4 separate regions of the Homo sapiens genome follow, and regions 1, 2 and 4 are each linked to region 3. Evidence: fine-mapped expression QTL. A gene starts in region 3. Each other region holds a variant in brackets. All regions are shown on one strand. Distances are between the middles of the regions. Region 1 has its middle 23 kb from the start of DANCR. Region 2 has its middle 76 kb from the start of LRRC66. Region 3 holds the start of USP46 (ubiquitin specific peptidase 46). Region 4 overlaps SCFD2 (sec1 family domain containing 2).

Evidence for each region. PIP is the estimated chance that this variant, and not a neighbour inherited with it, causes the effect.
Region 1: its variant is the best candidate, but not a certain one, in a credible set for the expression of USP46 in whole blood (INTERVAL, PIP 0.76).
Region 2: its variant is the best candidate, but not a certain one, in a credible set for the expression of USP46 in monocytes (BLUEPRINT, PIP 0.57).
Region 4: its variant is the best candidate, but not a certain one, in a credible set for the expression of USP46 in whole blood (TOPMed, PIP 0.55).

What each region holds. Positions count from the first base shown.
Region 1 is chr4:52,687,199-52,692,348 of GRCh38, forward strand. No RefSeq gene overlaps it. Among named protein-coding and RNA genes, the nearest start is that of DANCR, 23 kb to the right of the region's middle. The variant A/G (reference allele first, on the strand shown) is at 2,173.
Region 2 is chr4:51,941,557-51,946,706 of GRCh38, forward strand. No RefSeq gene overlaps it. Among named protein-coding and RNA genes, the nearest start is that of LRRC66, 76 kb to the right of the region's middle. The variant A/T (reference allele first, on the strand shown) is at 3,045.
Region 3 is chr4:52,656,077-52,661,226 of GRCh38, forward strand. USP46 (ubiquitin specific peptidase 46) reads right to left here and starts at 3,225. Exons shown (of 9, transcript NM_022832.4): 1 at 3,039-3,225. The coding sequence starts at 3,074. It overlaps USP46-DT (USP46 divergent transcript), which reads left to right and starts at 3,330. Exons shown (of 2, transcript NR_125363.1): 1 at 3,330-3,600; 2 at 4,816-5,150. RefSeq lists silencers at 2,679-3,198, 3,209-3,638.
Region 4 is chr4:52,989,140-52,994,289 of GRCh38, forward strand. All of the region lies in intron 5 of SCFD2 (sec1 family domain containing 2), which reads right to left. Among named protein-coding and RNA genes, the nearest start is that of SCFD2-AS1, 64 kb to the left of the region's middle. The variant G/A (reference allele first, on the strand shown) is at 2,550.

The sequences.
Region 1 (5,150 bases), 31 kb after region 3:
AAGGATTGTATAATACTCACATCTCCTTTCAAGAAGAGGGATATGCATTTAGAATTAGAATATAAAATAGAATTATTACGTTCCAAAAAATGTTCAAAACCTGATCATTTTAAATCATAAATTGCAATTCATATTGTCACAGAGGAAACTAAATTGGTAAATAATTAAAAATTATAAGAGCTGTTAAAAGTAGTATCTGATCTCACAGGGCCAGGTGGCTCATTCCTATAATCGCAGCACTGTAGGAGCTCAAGGCAGGTAGATCACTTGAGGCCAGGAGTTAGAGACCAGCCTGGCCAACATGGCAAAACCCCATCTTTACTAAAAACGCAAAAATTAGCCAGGCGTGGTGATGCATGCCTGTAATCCCAGCTACTTGGACGATTGAGGCATGAGAATCACTTGAACCTAGGAAGTCGAGGTTGCAATGAGCTGAGATCATGCCACTGCACTCCAGTCTGGGTGACAAAGTGAGACCCTGTCTCAAAAAAAAAAAAAATAGTAATATCTGATCTCTTTGGTTTTGGGGAACCAAGGATTACTTTGTGCTGTGAGAGAGAACTTGACTTCAGTGTATGCAGTGTCTGACAAGCCACTGCAAAAGCTGCAGTTTGGGGAGTGGCTGACAATGGTCTCAGTGAATGCTTGTTAATGCAGAGTGCTACTTATTTCTTTGTGCACTTAGGTAAAAAGGCGGGTTTGAACATTTGGAGGTTGTGGGGACACTTGCCACCAAGAGATAAGACTCCTGACAGGGAAGGGCTGATCACAGAAGGGGCTGATCGGCATCATTTCACCCGCCAGCAACAAAGGAATGTCTTCATGGTGAAAGGCACTGTGGAAGCATTGCATGGCCCAGTCCCAGGGGATTTCCTTTTATTAGGGGACCTGGGATTGTAAAAGTGGGATCCTTGATTTTTTGTTTGTTTGTTTTTGAGACAGAGTCTCACTCTGTCACCCAGGCTGGAGTGCAGTGGCACGATCTTGGCTCACTGCAACCTCCGTCTCCCGGGTTCAAGTGATTCTCCTGCCTCAGCCTCCCGAGTAGCTGGGACTACAGGTGTGTACCACCACACCCAGTTATTTTTTTGTATTTTTAGTACAGATGGGCTTCACCATGTTAGCCAGGAAGGTCTCGATCTCCTGACCTTGTGATCCGCCTACCTCGGCCTCCCAAAGTGTTGGGATTACAGGTGTGAGCCACCACACCCGGCCAGAGATCCTTGATTTTTAAAGATCTAGATGTGCTGCATTCCAGCTGTGCCTGCTTTTCATATATTTAAATATTAGGCCCTGGTAACTGCAAAGGCTTTCTTTGTTTGCCTTGTTCATTAAAGGGCTCCACCTTGAAGTCAGTAATCTAATCAAGAGACAAATTAAGTGGAAAAGAACACCTATCTAACCAGATTGGTATCCAAAATACAATGTTCTTAGCTGGCTATACTGAAACTTTTTGTAAAATAAATCTACATCTATAAAGGAAACCTCCATTTGTAAGGACATCTCCCTCACTGTACCTAAACCACTAGAAACTTTTGGGAAAACATTAGTTTAAAGTTTACATGACAAATCTTGCCTTTATTTAAGATACTTAACATAGGCCTTTACCTATGCCCTTCTTTGTCTCAGCAAATAATGGTGTTTACATCTAACTTCTGTGTCTTTAAATAAAAATTCTCACATAAGAGTCATGTCTTTAAAAGTACAAATTTAGGGTTGCCTAGCTAATATTGTTTAGAGCTTGATTGTTTATAGATGGTAGAAAAACCATTTGATAATTGGCCTAAAAAGGATGTTATGAAGCTGTAAAATATACTTCTGTGTGTATGTCTATATGTTTATAAGTGTCATGTATGTGATATTTCCTTACAAAGATATATGAAAAAGCTCTAATCATTGGCTTTTAAAAAGTAAACACTTAAATATTTAATCAGAAAAATAGAAACAAACTCAAATGCCTTTAGTTTACATGACTTGGGTAAATGCTTAGTAAATAAGACTAGTTTAATATTGTTGGTTTAATGAAAACAGCTGTGTCTTCTAATCAACAAACTATGCATGTATTTAACTTTAGGGTTCCTGCTTAGGTGGCAAATACCTAACATTCACAAGCTGTAAAAATGATTAACTAATAAATAGCTTGAGATAATAGCTAGCTTTGTTTAATGAACT[A/G]TTCAAGCATAATTGTTAAAGATGAATAAATTAGGCCAGTTGTGGTGGCTCATGCCTGTAATCCCAGCACTTTGGAAAGCCAAGGCAGGTGGATCACCTGAGATCAGGAGTTTGAGACCAGCCTGGGCAACATGGTGAAACTCCATCTCTACTGAAAATACAAAATTAGCCAGGCATGGTGGCACATGCCTGTAATCACAGCTACTTGGGAGGTTGAGGCAAGAGAATCACTTGAACCCGGGAGGTGGAGGTTGCAGTGAGCTGAGATTGTGCCACTGTACTCCAGCCTGGGCAATAGAGTGAGACTCCGTCTCAAAAAAAAAAAAAGAATGAATAAATTACATGAATGTAAATAGGATACAAGTTTATAAATGAACTCCATAGTTCCAAAAATCTTTTTAGTAACTTGATCTTAAAGTCATGTTGTGTTAAATTAAGTAATAGATAATCATAAAATGTCTGAGTCATTTATATGATATAGAAAAGCTATATCTAAATCTGTTAATTAGAAAATTGAGGAAACATCTTTCTAAAAATTATGAAATGGTTTAAATTTACAAATACAGGCATAAACTATACACCAAAAATAAAATTCTAAGACCCCACCAACCAGCTGGACCCCTGCTTGGCTAAGGGCATTCTAAAGTAAACCTGATTGAATAGGAGAATACATAAGGGGAAAAATACATAAGGGTCCAGGTGTGGTGGCTCATGCCTGTAATCCCAGCACTTTGGGAGGCTGAGGCGGGCAGATCACCTGGGGTCAGGAGTTTGAGACTAGCCTGGCCAACATGAAACCCCATCTCTACTAAAAATACAAAAATTAGCTGGGCGTAGTGGTGGGTACCTGTAATTCCAACTACTCAGGAGGCTGAGGCACTATAATCGCTTGAACCCAGAAGGCGGAGGTTACAGTAAGCCGAGATCACGCCACTGCACTGCAGCCTGGGTGACAGAGCGAGATTCAGTCTCAAAAACAAACAAAAAAAAACAAAAAAAGGGGGAGAAATATTAAGGAGAAAGAGAGAGAGAGAAAAGAAAAGAAAAGAAAAGAAAAAAAAGAAAGGAGAAAAGAAAAGGCAATTTGGAATTCAGGCACAGCTGACCAGTATTAACATAAAAACAGAGACTTTAAGACTGACAAAACAGACTTTTTGTGGTAACAAGACATCAGCATGACAGATAGCAGGCCCTGAAAGAAATTGAAGTATTTTACCCCAAAATATATTTCTTTTTTCTTTTCTTTTCTCTTTTTTTTTTTTTTTTTTTTTTGAGACAGGGTCTCACTCTGTCACCCAGGTTGGAGTGCAGTGGCGCAATCTTGGCTTACTACAACCTCCACCTTCCAGGCTCAAGCAATCTTCCCACCCCAGCCTCTCTAGTAGCTGGGGCCAAAAGACATGCTCCACCACACCTGAATAATTTTTTTTTTTTTTTTTTTTTTTGTAGAGATGGGTTTTGCCATGTTGCCCAGGCTGGTCTTGAACTCCTGAGCTCAGGAGATCCACCTGCCTCAACCTCCCAAAGTAATGGGAGTACAGGCATGAGCCACCATACATGACCTCCCAAAATATATTTTTTTGACATATTTTGAAATGGCACTGCAAAGCTATCTCTTGTACAAAAAATATATCTTCTGTCAAGAACCCCTTTCCCTTTCCAGGTCTTCTTTCTGATCCAGGAGTGAATTAACAGAGTTTGGCACCTTAAAGAAACACAATCTATTTATTTTAAAGCCTGCTACCTGGAGACTTCATCTGCATTATAAGATCCTTGGTCTGCACGACCCCTTACCTTAGCCCAGATACTCTCTTCTACTGATTTCAGGTCTTTCATTAAGATCTCCCAACCAACTGCCAATCAGAAAACCTTTGAATCCACCTATGACCAGGAAACCTCTTCTTTGAGTTGCATGAGGGGGAACTTTATGTGTTCAAAATGACAATAGGAAAAAAAAGTAAATTTTTGTCCTAAGGTAAGATGCCAATATAAAAAGGAAATACAGGACAAAACTGGCGCCTTAAGCAAATTTTAGAAAATCTGTGGAAAACTCATCTTGTGAAAGGAATTTTGTTTGTGATCAAGTTGGCTAAAATTAGAATTATTTTTCTAAAAATTGAGCCATAGGAGCACTAATGGGCATAGAGACTGCCAGGCCCGTACCCACCAGTGCCCTGTCCCCATGACAACATTGCTGCCAGTGCAAAACTGTGCGGGAGACCACTAGACCCATCCCCACCCCCAGCAGCAGCTGCCGGCTGCACAGAGGGTACACAGAGTTTCATGCCTACCAGCACCCACCCTTGTGCTAACACCAGCCCTGGAGCAAACACATGCACAGACACTGGGGGGACCCCTGGCTGGCCACACTATCCTGCCACCATCACCACTGTGAACACCCACACAGAAGTTGGCACCCCTGAACCTACCAGCACCTCACTGCAGAATGAGTGTGCACCCTGCCATGCTACCCATACTGCTGGCACATGCAAACAAGGATGGATCCCATTGCCACTTCCCTACAAAGTTCTGTGGCTGGCACCACCCATCAGACTCTTGTGAACACTGCTTCAGGAACAACTTGGCCCTTCCAGCATGGCAGGTTCCTAACTTCCAGGGACCACAGAACAAAGCCAGAGGTCTGAAATCAACACCCCAGAGTTAGAACACACAGTCCAGGAGTTCTGAGCTGAGCCTTGGTTCCCTAAAATCCTCCAGAAACAAACCCAGTCAATTGAACCCACCTTATACCACAATTAAATCTCCCAGAACATAAAATGGAATTAAAGAAAAAAAAACTTATCTAAAAGTCAGCAACTACAAAGATTGAAGGAATATTAGCCCACAAAGATGAGAAAGAACCAGTGCAAAAACTCTGGCAACTCAAAAAGCCATAGTGTCTTGTTACCTCCAAAGGATTGGACTAGTTCCCAAACAGGCTGAGATGGCCAAAATTACAGAAATAGAATTCAGATTCT
Region 2 (5,150 bases), 710 kb before region 3:
TGGACCCACTCATGAGCCTTTGGCCAGCCATGGGAAATCCTTTCCATTTCTTCCCCTCATTTCTCATTTTAGGTACCTTGGGCTAGTAAGGGCTGTAGTTTGGCCTGCTTGGCCTGGAGGAACATGACTTGCCCCAGGTGATGCTATTGACCTTACCTCCTAACGGCTTGTTGTGTGTCCTATGGGAGCTATTGCTGCTGAAGCCAGAGCTCCGCCATGTTCAAGGTCAGATGCAACATGGTTCGACTTCCCTCAGTGCTGCCTGGAGAGGCTGGGAGCACTGCAGAAAAGTTTTGTGCATCACTTTGTATCTGCATTCTCTTGGCCCCTACTTTAGTTACATTTCCTTTCATTCTGGCTTTCTCAGGATTGACCCCCTGCCCCAATAATACACTGACTTTTAAGTTTTACTGCAGACTCTTTTTCCAGGCAACCCAGCCTCAAGTGGCATGTGTTGAGGTTAGTTAAGGGTTGGCCTGGGGACCTTGTCAAACAGGATCTCCACGATGAGGGTCAGGTGGCTTTAGGGATGGGAGTGGAAGAAAGTGAGAGTCAGACCTCTCGAGTCACAGTGTTTGCGGGAGTCTGGGTGGGGGCAGGTCAGTCAGGGGAGGTCATCAGGTCTTGACAAAGCCAGAACAAGTGACAGCTGCTTTCAGCCAGAGACTGACAATAAGACGAGCAGCCACTGGGCAGTCCAGAGACACCTTCTGCAAAGCCACGTCTGAGAAGCCCTATGCTCCAAAGCCTCAAAAATGAAGTGTGCCCTCATATACTCAGATGCCAACCCCAGGAAAAAGAAATGAAGCAGAAACAGAAGCCAGAGAGGTGAGTCATTCCAGAGAGGCTGCTTTGACCAGTCCTAAAAGAGAGAGTTCAGTGAATTTTTAAGATTAAAATTGGAAATAGAGAGGAAACCATTTAGATTGGAAGAGATAGAAATATTTTTCATTGACGAATCTGTTATTTCTGCTATCCAGGGTGGTGGGAGCCCCAGGAAGACGATCAGTTATAGATGAAAGTAAGAAATTGCATTTACTCTGCAAATCTGTGTGCCTTGTGAGTAATGTTGTGACCCTGCTATAATTCATTGGAGTTGTAGAGGAGAGCCTTTGCTGTTGGCCAAGATTACAGATATAAGGAGCACCCAGAATGGAACTAGATGGGCAGACAGGAGATATGAGCATTGCTGTTACCTAACTTTGTAACTGGGAGTGAATGCTTTCTTTCTCTTTAAACATGGCCATTTGACCAGATCTGTGATTCTAAAGTGGGGGTTGCAAACTGCAAATGCCCACAGGAGCCAGGCAGATAAGGCAAAGGGATGAAGTGGACCAGATGGGAAATGGGTGAACTGGAGCCCTTTTCCCCGCATGTGCACAGGGCAGATGCTGCTTGAGTCCTGCAGGAATAAAGTTTGGTGTTCCCAGATAATAGGTTATGTTTACTAAGGGTTTAATATGCTTTAAACAAATCGATGTTCTCATTTTAAGCTCACAATAACCCTATTCAGGAGGTACTATTATTATCTCTATTTTTCAGATGAGGAAAATAACTGGAGTTCCTTCCAGTCCTGAGGTAGAGAGGATAAATAACTTGATGAAGGTCAGAGAAGTAGAAAGTTGCAGAACTGGGATTAAGACCCAGACAGTCCAGCTGCAGAGCATGCTTGATCATGACGGCACAGTTCTCCTGATTTTTCCTGATTAGTGGGACATTGAGATTTTTTAAAAATTAAAATCTTGCAATTAAAAAATGAAAAGTTAAAAAAACAAAAAACAAAAACTCAGCGAGCTGCAGAAGACCAAAGTGAAAACTGAGCGAGCTTCAGAAGGTCTGTGAGTTGCCAGCTTGTATTTGGCATTCCAAGTCAATGACTCATGATGTATCGTTGGAAAGCAATGATTTTGTAGGGTTGTTTTCCCCAAATATTCATACCAGAGTATAAACTTGTAGATTTTCCTTCAGAGTAGTCAAGTCGGACACCTACACACTGTTTCAGATAATGTTTCTTTGGCCCAAAATATTTTCAAAATTCCACGTTTGGAATTGCCTTCAGAAAGGTTCACAAATCAGTTATATTATCTTGTGGTCATATCTCATTTGGTGAGATATGGTAGAGAGTGTGTGTGCATGGGCATACACACCTGTGCTTATACGCACACACACACAGAGTGGCTGCTCATGTTTTGCTGATGGATACTCAGAGGCATGTAGAGAATTTCACATTTCCAAAACAACAAAGAATTAGTGGAGGTGTCAGAGGTGTTTGAACCAGAGTGACTCCATCTTGAATAGGTGTGATAGGAATCAGCAGGAAGAGTTTTGCAAGGTTCAAGCCACAAAGACCTCACGGATCAAATGAGATTAGGTGAAGAAGCTGGCCAAAACCCACCAAAACTAAGATGGCCCTAAAAGGGACCTCTGTCATCCTCACTGCTCATTAAAAGCTAATTAAAATGTATTAGCATGCTAAAAGACACTCCCATCAGTGCCATGACAGTTTACAAATGCCATGGCAACATCCGGAAGTTACCACATATGGTCCAAAATGGAGAGGAACTCTCAGTTCTGGGAGCCCCCATCCCTTTCTCAGAAAACTCATGAATAATCCACCCTTTGTTTAGCAGATCATCAAGAGATAATCTTATATATAATCAGTCAAGCACCCATGCCGATGCTCTGCCTATGGAGTAGCGATTCCTTTATTTCTTCTTTAATAAACTTGGTTTCACTTTACTCTGTAAATTTGCCCAGAATTCTTTCTTGCGTGAGATCTGAGAACCCTCTCTTGGGGTCTAGATCAGGACCACTTTCCAGTAACAGAAGAGCTAGGAATAAAAATGCAATCCCTGCCTCAGTAAAGCAGTTCGTTACCACTACTCTATATTTCCCTTCCTCTCATTCACAACCTCTCTCCTCCCCTGCCCTCATTCACAGAATATATGATTCAGAATAGGGCTGCAGTATAGTTGGGTTGGGGGAAATTATCATAGACAATGGGAAGGTGTGGGGAAACTCATGTAAGGAGAATTACCTGGAGC[A/T]TGGGGGGGCCAAATAAAATGTTTATTGAGTAAATGAATGATGAGTTAGAGTGAGAACAGCTTGGAGGTTATCTCAGTTCCTGGCTATTATAACAAAACCTTAGACTGGGTGATTTGTAAACAACAGGTATGCATTCCTCACAGGGCTGGAGCTCGAGAAGTCCAATATTAAGGCTGTAGCCAATTTAGTGTCTGGTGATGGCTGCTCTCTGCTTCATAGATCTGGCACCTTCTATGTGTCTTCACATGGCAGATGGGACAAACAGGTTCCCTCAAACCTTTTTTAACAAGGGCACTAATTCCATTCATGAGCCCTCATGACCTAATCCCCAAATCCTCCACCTCTTAATACTATCACACTGGGGATGACGTTTCATGTCAAAGTTCATATGAATTGTTGGGGGGACACAAATATTCAGACCACAGCATTCCACCTCTTCCCCCACTAAATTTATGTCCATTTCACAGGCAAAATAGATTCATGCCATCTCAACAGCCCCCAAAATCTTAACTCTTCCAGGATCAACTCAAAAGTCTAAAGTCCAGAGTCTTAATCAGATGTGGATTGATATGGTTTGGATATGTGTTCCTTCTAAGTCTCATGTTCAATTGTTATCCCTAGTATTAAGAGTTGGGGCCTACTGGGAGGTGTTTGGTTCATGGAGGCAGATCCCTCTTGGTTTGGTGCTGTCCTCGAGATAGTGAGTTCTCATGAGATCTGGTTGTTTAAGTGTGTGGCACCTCCCCCCTCACTCGCTTGCTCCCACTCTGCCATGTGAGATACCTATTCCTGCTTTGCCTTCCACCACAAATAAAAGCTCCTTGAGTCCTTCCCAGAAGCTGGGCAGATGCTTGTGCCATGCTTCTCGTACAGCCTGCAGAAACATGAGCCAATTAAACCTCTTCTTTTATAAATTGCTCAGTCTCAGGTATTTCTTTATAGCAATGCAAAAAATGGCCTAATACAGAAAATTGGTATCAAGAATGTGGAAGTGTTTCTGGAATTGGGTAACAGGCAGAGGTTGGAAGAGTTTGAAAGGCTCAGAAGAGAACAGGAAGATGAGGTAAAGTTTGGAACATCCTAGGGCCTGGTTAAAAGGTTGTGACCAAAATGCTGATAGTGATATGGGCAGTGAAGTCCAGGCTGCTGAGGTCTCAGATGGAAATGAGAAATTTATTGCGAACTGGAGTGAAGGTCATGTGCGTTGTGCATTAGCAAAGAGTTTGTCTGCATTGTGTTTATGACTTAGGGATCTCTGGAAGTTTGAACTTGAGAGTGATAATTTAGACTATCTGGTGGAAGAAATTTCTAAGAGTAAAGCATGCAAGATGTTGCCTGGCTGTTTTCTAACATCCTAGGCTCAGATGCAGGAGCAAATAAATGACTTAAAATTATAACTGATATTTGAAAGGGCAGCAGAGCATAAATATTTGAAAAATTGAAGCCTGGCCATGTAGTAGAAAGAAAAGCCCATTTTAAGGGGAATAATCCAAGCAGGCTGTGAAGCAACCACTTGCTAGAGAGATTTTCGTAACTAAAAAGGGGCAAGGTGCTGATAGCCAAGAAAAGGCCTCAAAGGCATTTCAGAGACCTTTGTGACAGCCCCTCCCATCAAGGCCCAGAGGCCAAGAATGGAAAAATGTTTCCATGGGCCAGGCCCAGGGCCCCTGCTGCCCTACGTGGCCTTAGAACACTGCTCCCTGCATCCCAGCAGCTCCAACCCCAGTCTCAGCTCAAAAAGCTCCAGATATAGCCATAAGCCTTGGTGGCTTCTACATAGGGTTAAGCCTGCAAATGCTCAGAGTGCAAGAATGAAGGAGGCTTGCCAGCCTCTGCTTAGATATCAGAAGATGTATGGAAAAGCCTAGAAGCCCAGGCAGAAGCCTGCCACAGGGACACAGCCCTCACATAGAACCTCTACTAGGGTAGTGCAGAGGAGAAATTCTGGGTTGGAGACTCCACACAAATTCCTCACTGGGGCACTACCTAGTAGTTCTGTGAGATGGGGACCACCATGCTTCAGGCCCAGAATGACAGATCCACTGGCAGTTTGCATCCTGTGACTGGAAAAGCCACAGTCATTCAACTTGAACCCATGAAAGCAG
Region 3 (5,150 bases):
TCCTGTTACCCAGAAAAATGGTACCTTCTAATATCCTTTCTGAACACATATCAGCCTGTTCAAAATATGTTAAACGATGTGCTTAAGAAAAAAATGCAATCACCATTTGCTCTTACTACAACTACTCAAACCAGCTGGGACCAAAGTTAGGAGCGGGAAGGGTCAGTAAGAGGCCCACAGAGGAGCTAAGCAGTGAGAAGGGACCTGTAAGACACCTACCTGAAAACAATTCATTATTGAGCAAAGAATCTAAAGAGAGGTCCAGTTAATATTTACGTCTGATCCAGTGAAAAGACAGCAGTTTCCTCATACCCAGCCTTCTCCTCTGGGAAGGAAGACTGGGAGGGACAGTGGGGGCGGTGGGTGGGGGATTGACCTGAGCAGGGGGCGGGGTTAAGGATTCCCACTCCAGCCTTCCTATACATGGGAGGTGTTTATATTAGTGGTTGCTTCCACCAGGTCTGAAATGGCATGATCTCCACTGTCCCTTAAACACCTGGTAGATGACATAACAATGAGAAAGATGATGTTGACAATGACACTCACTGAGTTCTAGCCATGTACCAGGCCCTGTGCCCGAGTAATACAACAATATTAACATCACCTTTTGGTAGATAAGGAAAGTCTAAGACCGGACAACTTGTTCAAGGACACAAAGCCAACATGTGTTAGAACCAGGACCTGCCGGGTATGGTGGCTCACGGCAGTAATTTGGCGCTTCGGGAGGCTGAGGTGGGAGGACCACTTGAGCCCAGGTATTAGGGACCAGCCTGGGCAACATAGGGAGACCCAGTCTCTATGGAAAATTTAAAAATTAGCCAGGCATGGTGGCACGTGCCTGTAGTCCCAGCTACTCAGAAGGCAGAGGTGGGAGAATCACTTGAGCCTGGGAAGTGGAGGCTGCAGTGAGCCACCATGTTCATGCCACTGCACTCCAGCCTGGGTGACAGTGTGAGACCTTGTCAAAAAAAAAAAAAAAAAAAAAAAGAACCAGGACCTGAACCCAGGAAGTCTGACATTAGAACCCAAACTCTGTCACTCTCTAGACATGGCGTCTAAATACAACATCAGACTCCTTACTTAATGAATTACTGGTTCCTCACTTCATCTGGGTGATGGTCCTAAATTTGGTACCTTTTTAGGTCTCCACCTGAGATGTCAACTCTCAGGGCAGTATTGGCCTGCTCCTCTCAGGTCCTCCCCACACCCTGTCTCCCTGACTGAGTTTCACTGAAACACGTTGTGACATTCAGCCCAGGTGTGCCAGAAAGCCCCCGCAGCACTGAGGGTGGGTGGGGGGACGCGTGGGGGGAGGTTGGGGGCTGGCTTCCTCTAGGGGCATGCTAGCTCTCAAGTTTCCAGCCTGCTTCTACACAGAGAGGTGTAACCACACACAAGCAGGACAAGAACACCACCAAGGGCTGGGTCGGAGCCTCACTACCCTGTAGTATCCTTAGGCCTGCGGCCACACCAACAGACATAAAAGAGTATTCAAGCTGCTCCCGATTCACAGTTCCCTCAGGAACTGGTCGTAGGAGAGAAACTGAGAAGGCATCACCTCTTCACAAGCAGCCCCTCCACAGGAATAAGAGGAAATCTGACTCCTCGCAGAGAAAGGAAAAAAAGAGAAAACAGAAAGGCTCTAGGATCCACTCCCCGTATGGAACTCGCCCGGCACCAACCAGTACCTGTGCAGCTATCACTCTGGGAGGCCCCAGCATTTGCTTTGCTGGCCGTGACAGTGGCACGTCCCATTGTGCTGAAAGCTGAAGCCAGCGGGTCTCAATTCCACCCCTGAGCTAACACAAGGCTTCTTAATGCTCCTTTGCCATGTGTTGATCTTGCAACAGAATGTGGGACAGAAGATTTAAAAAGCTATGTGATGGGGGAAGGGCAGCCAGATCACCTTACACCAGGGCTTCTCCATCAAGCTTCCTTGGATTCCCTTTAGGGGCCAGTATTACTAGCTTCAAGGGAGGTTTTCCTCAAACTGGCACTGTAAGAGCACGTGTTGCCTCCGGGGACCCGCTTGGGAGGGGGCTAGAGGGGAGGCGGGGTGCAGTCTAAAGAATGTAGGCAAAACACACATCATCTCACCCTGCAAGGGACAGCAATGCCTTACTCCAATCTGAGCTCCCCAAAGGCTCTGACAAGTGGAGGCGCCAGCAGGGTCCAGCCTGGGGACCCAAGGGCTGGAGGTTCTTCCTACAGAAAAAGGGAAAGCAATGGGGGAAACCCAAATTAAAGTGACCACCGCATCATGGGCTCGGACTGCATCAGAACCCAGTGATGTCCCTGGCTGTATCCATGCCCGCCAGCCTCCCCTAGGTCTACAGCGGATCAGGCAGGATAACCCTGGAGACCTCCTCCAAGCCCACAGCCCGCCCCACCCTTAGGGCCTGCAAATATTACCGCCACAGAGCCTTGTCCCTTTTTCACAGATGGGGAAACTGAGGCATGCGGAGCAAATTACGGTGCTTTTTCAAACCAGGTTGAAGTTCACTTCTCCAGCCACAATTTTGCACTTTTTTTACAGCTTTATTACATTTCCGATTTCTCCAGATACACAATTGCTATTGCAAAGTGAATTTTAAACACCTCGGAAGGACTGAACTCAAAATGAGATGAGGGCAGTCTGGACGTCCAATAAGGCTGTCTTGACCGCAAGAAGAGGATGGGTGCCCCCCACCTCCAGCTTATCCCCCACCCCCTCCCCGGGGACGTTCAGGTTCGGTCGCTTCCCTTCCCTCAAGCCGCTTCCACCGCAACCCGAGGGCGGGGGGCGCAGCAGCGCGGCCCCGGGATCGCCGGGCGGGTTCCGAGGTCCCGGGGCTGAGACGGGCGCCGGGGGCTCGGGGACCCTCCCCGGCCGCTGAGGTGGCTGCGGCCGCGCGCCCAGCTCGGGGGCCGGGAACTTCTGGCGGCGCGGACCCCGCCGCCCCCGCCGCCCCAGCCACCGGGCGTGTGTGCAGCTCGGGCTTCCCTTTCTTTGCCTCGCCGCGAGTCGGGCGCGACCCCGAGGCGGCTCGGCCACTCACCATATTACAGATGGAGGCGATGTTTCGGACAGTCATTAGTCTAAAGGTTGCAGCGATCCCTCACCGCCATCTTTACAAGGGGAAACCGGGACTGCCCATGGTGGCGCGCTGGCGGGGAGGCCGGGCGGCAGCGCGGCGGCCTGGGGTCCGGCTTTCAGTTTGGCTGGGAGAGGGAGGCCGGGAGGAGGAGGCGGCGGCGCGGGGAGGGCGGGGAGGGAGCGCGGAGGGGCGGGGAGTGGCGGAGCGAGGGAGCCTGGGCCGCGGCCGGCGGCGCGGGGAGGAGGGGCGGCCCGGGCGCGCCGCGTGAGTCCGAGCCGGCCGCTCAGAGCGCTCCAGGCTGGGTTCCCGGGCCCCGCCGCGCCGCCTCCTTCCCAGCTCGCCCGCCCAGGCCTGGCCTCCTGCTTTTCCATTTGATTCCCTGCCTCTTTCTATTCGGACTGGAATGCCGGGCCAGGCTCCGGGGCGCGCCGCTGCGGCAGCCGCACCTCGCAGGTCCCCCGGCCGACCCCGACGCGGAAGCGGCGGCCCTCCTCGCCGTCGGGGAGCCAGGGAGCCGGGGACGGTACGGTGCGCGGGGTGGGGAAGCGGGCGGCCCAGGCCGGGGCGAACCCGGGGCCGCCTTCCGTCCTCGCTTTTTCCTCGTCGCCTTCCTCCTGGCGGGCCTCGGCAGCCCCCGGTGTTTATTTTTTGGCGAGGGGTAGGGGTGGCGACGTCCAACTTTTAGTTCCTCCCGAGGGTTCCAACCAGATGGCACCGGCGGGGACCCAAGAAGTAAAATGGGGCGAGGACACCGGAGCGGTCAGAGAGCCCTCGCCAGCTGCGGGCCGGGCGCCCGAGAAAGGGCGCCGGGAAGGGGGAGGAATCCGGGTCTGGGCGGAGGCCAGCAGCGGCGCGCTCGGGCGGCTTGTGACATTAGCGGGTCCAAAGGAGACGTCCCGGTTCCGCGCAAGCACTAGGGACTGTCCAAGGAGTGGAAAGAACGAAAACAAAACTTTTCCATATCTTCAAGGCAGGCATACCCCTCTCGGGTGCACCCAGCCTCTAGTTGTTGAGATGGGCGCTGTATGGGATCATGCACATTTCCCGCATTAAAGGTCGTGGCTGCGGGCTCAGAGCGCGAGTCTGTGCACCACTTAGCAGATAGGTCCACGCGAATTGAAGGGGCCCGTTTCTGAATGTGTGGAACAGTTACACATACAAGGTTGCAATTCGATGCTTTCAAAGGAGAAATTGTACAAGTGAGATGCGTGATAAATTCTTAGATCAGTGTATTTAATGACAAATTGAATCAGAAGAAAAATTAGTTGAAGATAGCTTTTATCTAACCAAGAGTAAAGATTTGAGAGCCGTTGATTGCTAATATCCCTAGAATCTGGGGAGGAAACAGTAAGACAGACTTGTTGACTGAAGGTTTTGGGAGTCATGTCACTGTGTTTTCCAGTGGACATGAGAAATAATATTCCTGCTTAAGTCTTTCAACCTAAATATTATTTCCAAATACATCCTGATGATAATTTCTTCCATTGTAAGTCATGACTGATTTTCTTCTCTCTCTCTCTGTTTTTTAAGAGACAGGTTCTCGCTATGTTGCCCAGCCTGAGGCTGGGCAGCCCCGAGTCATCCCAAACTCCTGGGCTCCAGCAATCATCCCACCTTGGCCTCCCAAAGCGCTGGGACAACAGGCGTGAACCACTGCACCCAATGTTTACATTCCTGATCTCCTTTAATCGCCACCATAACTATCAGCTGGTACATGCTATTATCTCCTTTTTTGCAGATCAGTCACATAAGGCTTAGAGGATCAAGGATCCTGCCCAGATGACTTACCGAAATGTTACAGATTAAGTTGGTGTGGTAACCTGGGCTGAGCACTCTGGGAGAGGAAGAGAAGAGAGAAGACAGGAAACAACTGAACTATGACCAATCCCAGCACGGAGGCCCAGAAAACTTTAAGATTTGAGTATTAATGTCTCAAGGTCAGGAGCAACCTCAAGGCTAAAACTCAGATCTCAGGACTCAATTTCACAGAAGTTCCACTATAAAGGCAATAATCTAAAGCTTTAAATGATATGAAAATTTTGTAATAAGAGTTCAGTATTTCTGCCAACATTG
Region 4 (5,150 bases), 330 kb after region 3:
GTTCATTTGTTTCTGTAGGATGAACAGAGTGGGCAATCATTGTACAAATGGAACAAGAAACTTGGATGATGTCCCTAGTTCTGTGACTAATTTGTGGATTATCTTATTAGTCCTTTAACCATGTTTGGTGAAATAAAAACCATGCTATGCCCATCAATTTCTCCTAAAGGGATGTTATAAGACCAACATGCCACTATGGATAAAGCATCCTAAGGAAAGATGATGGAAATAGTCTTATTAACAGAATAACTTCAGTTTTGTCTCTATTCATACTATAATTTCCTTTAATATTATATGATAGTGTTTCAGTATTTGAAATGTGATAGCTTAGGAGTTCAACTTATGATAAAGACACTCTGTAATTTTCCCTAGTGTGCCCATTTTAAATACAATGCAAAGAAGGAATAGAATGCCTGTGGAATGCTTATGGTAGTGACTTCAAAGGAGTTCAGAAATTTCTATCAGACAAAACCTTTGCTCCCTTGTTTACATAAAATCGACATCATCTAATAATGTATGTTTCCCACTGTGGCATTGGATTCTATTCACCTTGATTCCTGTTTTCATTTCTTTCATTCTACTTTCTTCCCAATCTGCCTGATGCATTTTGTTTTCTCAAAATTCTGCCTTTTCTGTTGGTTGCTAATGAGTTTTCTCTGTTCCCTTCTTTCCTTTTACCTACTGATGCCCCCTCCCACCATCTCTGCTTACATGTTTCTAGTCCTGCTGTTCACCTCTCTTTATTTTTCCTTCTTTGACTCTCTTCCTCTGTCTACACTCTGCACATTCTGGCATCATCTCTCTCCTTCCCTCCCTCCCATCCTTCATGCCTCCTTCAACTTTTCCTCATTACTGCTGCATGTATAAATAGGCTCGAGGCAATCTATCATTTACGCACATGCTCTCAGATAATCTCTTGCTGCATCTCACAGACAGTAGTTAACTGCAGCAGCAAATGTAACATGCTCATTTACTATCTTTTTAGAAGGAGTGCTGAAGCAGGGGTCAAAAATGAAAGAGACATCTCACATGATTCAGTGGCTTCTGAAGAATGAGCTGGTGATAAGAAGAAAGCTGTTTTCTTACATTTAATATCGACTGAAAACATGTTTCTAATGAGACAAAGCTGCTGCAAAATATATAAGGCTCTGAATGATATTAATCTGTCTTCCCAATGTGTTCTCATTAGTCTCATTCCACTATTACAATTAATAATGTTATTGCTAGAAATTTACAATGTGTCAGCCTTTCAGTGTTACTTTTTAAGTATTTAAAGTGAATTATCTAATTCAGGGATCTTCCTATAGCTGTACCATTTGTGTACTACATTAAGGAGACCAGCCAATGGGGAGAGCTGAGGCTGCTTGCAAAGCCATAGGTGGAGGCTAGCATTATTCCCATTTTTCAGATGAAGAAAATGACGTGCAGATGGTTTAAGCAACTTTCCCAAGTGGAAGAATCATGTAAAGTACAAAGTTAAAACTGGGTATTTTGAGACTTGGAATGTCAAATGTGTAATATACTGTCCAGTATAGTATTCTCTTACTAAAGCATACACAAATTGAAGGCAGGTACTGTGTCTATCTTGTTCATCATGGTAGCTACTAGTTTTAGAATAAAGAAAAAAAAATAAGGGTAAAAGTCATGAAACATTTAAAGGATTGGTCTTTCCAACAAAAGAGAAATGCAGTAATGATAAAGAAACTGTCCACTCTTGTAACTCTTACGCATCAGTTTTATCTTCACTTCCATCAGACCCTGGGCTGAGGTGGTGGTGGAGAATGTGGGAAAGTCTGGACTGACCCACCTGGATGTGGAACACACCTGGCTGTAGGTGGACAATGTGAGGCAGGCCCTTCAGTGTGCAAAATCAGATTCTGTGATGAGGAGTAGAGAGTAGGACAGGGAGAGGGAAGGAAGTCCACTAAGAGGTACTAGAGGGTATTCTGCAGGCAGAAAGGGGGCTGAGTAGATCTGGCCTGCAGGGAAGCTTGTTTTCAGGTTAATATGGTGAGACATGGGAGATAGATGGTTGGTGTTCAGTATGCTTGGGGAGAGGTAATAACAATATTGACATGCACTAAATATGATACCCTGTCTGAAGCACTTTGTGTTACCTCATTTCATCCTCACCAAAATCTCTGAGATTGGTATTATTATTCCTCCTATCTAAAGAAAATTGAAGTAAGTTGTCAAAGTTTTAATGACAGTAAAAAGGTACACTGTAGAGTCACTCCCAGATATGTTGATTTCGAAGTCCACATTTTTGCCCTTCCACCTTAGGAGGAGGGATTGGGGTTCAGGGGAGAACCCCTACTACCAACTGGGCTAGGGGGAGGATGGAAGGTTCCCAAATCTGGAGGATCAAGGAAATTACACAGGTTTTGAGGATGGGCTTGGCCTTGGGGGACAAGACTGGCACCCAGAGACAAAGTTCACTGAAGGCTCAGGGAGAGGAGTTGGATTAAGGGCCTGGTTACTAATGCACCACATCTGAGCAGAACATCCTCAAGATGACTTGACATTGCTCCACCCAACTCCCAAATGAG[G/A]GAAGTGGTTTGAATTCTCTCTGGCTAAGAAGAGTATTGGTTCTGAAACTGGGGGTGTAGCTGTAGCTGTAGCTGTAGCTGTGGAAATGGGAGGCCTGTGTAGTAAGGAAGCCATTCTGCCATTACATTTTGAGTTCAGATTGTTTTATCTGCCAGTATCTGTCCCAAAGTGATCTTGAATCCTTTTGGAATGAGGTAGGGTAAAAACTTAAAAAATGTACATGTCTTTATAGTGGATACATTTCCCCAAGCAGCCTTAAAATGTGTGCGTATATTTTTCTTAAGTATGTTTTTGCCTCTCCCTCTCCCTCTCCCCACAGTCTCCCTCTCCCCACGGTCTCCCTCTCCCCGCAGTCTCCCTCTCCCCACGGTCTCCCTCTGATGCCGAGCCGAAGCTGGACTGTACTGCCACCATCTCAGCTCACTGCAACCTCCCTGCCTGATTCTCCTGCCTCAGCCTGTCGAGTGCCTGGGATTGCAGGAGCGCGCCACCACGCCTGACTGGTTTTCCTATTTTTTTGGTGGAGACGGGGTTTCGCTGTGTTGGCCGGGCTGGTCTCCAGCTCCTAACCGCGAGTGATCTGCCAGCCTCGGCCTCCTGAGGTGCCGGGATTGCAGACGGAGTCTCCCTCACTCAGTGCTCAATGTTGCCCAGGCTGGAGTGCAGTGGCGTGATCTCGGCTCGCTACAACCTCCACCTCCCAGCCGCCTGCCTTGGCCTCCCAAAGTGCCGAGATTGCAGCCTCTGCCGGGCCGCCACCCCGTCTGGGAAGTGAGGAGCGTCTCTGCATGGCCGCCCATCGTCTGGGATGTGAGGAGCCCCTCTGCCCGGCCACCCAGTCTGGCAAGTGAGGAGCACCTCTTCCCGGCCGCCATCCCCTCTAGGAAGTGAGGAGCGTCTCTGCCCGGCCGCCCATCGTCTGAGATGTGGGGAGTGCCTCTGCCCCGCCACCCCTTCTGGGATGTGAGGAGTGCCTCTGCCTGGCCGCCACCCCATCTGGGAGGTGAGGAGCGTCTCCGCCCGGCCGCCCCGTCTGAGAAGTGAAGAGCCCCTCCGCCCGGCAGCCGCCCCATGTGTGAAGTGAAGCCCCCCCTCCGCCAGGCAGCCGCCCCGTCCGGGAGGGAGGTGGGGGATGCCTCTGCCCGGCTGCCCCGTCTGGGAAGTGAGGAGCCCCTCTGCCCAGCAGTCACCCCGTCTGGGAGGTGTACCCAACAGCTCATTGAGAACGGGCCATGATGACGATGGCGGTTTTGTCGAATAGAAAAGGGGGAAATGTGGGGAAAAGATAGAGAAATCAGATTGTTGCTGTGTCTGTGCAGAGGGAAGTAGACGTAGGAGACTCCATTTTGTTCTGTACTAAGAAAAATTCTTCTGCCTTGGGATGCTGTTAATCTATAACCTTACCCCCAACCCCCTGCTCTCTGAAACATGTGCTGTGTCCACTCAGGGTTAAATGGATTAAGGGCGGTGCAAGATGTGCTTTGTTAAACAGATGCTTGAAGGCAGCATGCTCGTTAAGAGTCATCACCACTCCCTAATCTCAAGTACCCAGGGACACAAACACTGCGGAAGGCCGCAGGGTCCTCTGCCTAGGAAAACCAGAGACCCTTGTTCACTTGTTTATCTGCTGACCTTCCCTCCACTATTGTCCTGTGACCCTGCCAAATCCCCCTCTCGGAGAAACACCCAAGAATGATCAATAAATACTAAAAAAATAAAAAAATAAAAAAAGTATGTTTTTTAATTTAATTGAATATTTTATTTATGTGCGGCAACTAAATCATCAAAGTACTTTCAGTGGCTCACTAGGATGCATATCTAGAAGCAGCTCCGCATTTTAGTCTCAAGTGTGTTTGCAGGTTCCATGTAATTTTTTACATACATTGTTTATCTCTTCAAAATGACTGCTTCAAGAAAACTGAAGAAACGAAGACAGTGGCAAGGGGCTGGCATACAGGGTGAAATAAAAATGCCACTCCACTCATACCAGGCAAAAGTTGGCAATATTGCTGGATTTCCACTCCAAGTTTCCAAACTCCAATGATAAAAATGGTCATAAAATTAATTGGAATCATTGTAACTCTCTAGCACAGGTACTTTTCTTTTGACATGAAAATTATTTATAGACTGTTCTGTACTTAGTAATAAATAGCCTCAGAAAAAGGCTCTGGAGACAGAGGGAAGTGTGGGAGATATTGGGGTTGTCAAAACGATGACTGGGGGCGTGTACTGCAGGTCTTGGCAGTGCCACGGCAAGGGAAACAAAGCGCAGACCGCATTGCTTGGGCCCCAGCCCTCCTCCCAGCCCTGAGGCTGGTCCCGCTCTAGACAGCTGGGTTTGGAGCTGCTCCTGTTCAGGGGTAACTCCCCACAGGCCAGGAGTGGGGCTGTTCCTGGGGCATCCTCAGGCCAGCAGTTCCTCTGAATGGTTGGGGGAGAAATGAAAAGACACCTGGAGGGCTGTGGATCACAGCCAGGTGTTCCTGAGGGAGCTCAAGCATTCTGGGCAAGTCCTGGATGAACTCTGACCAAACCTAGAGGATTCCCTGTTTTTCTTAACACTGCCTTACTACTTCAGTTTTCTTCAAAACTCTAACATT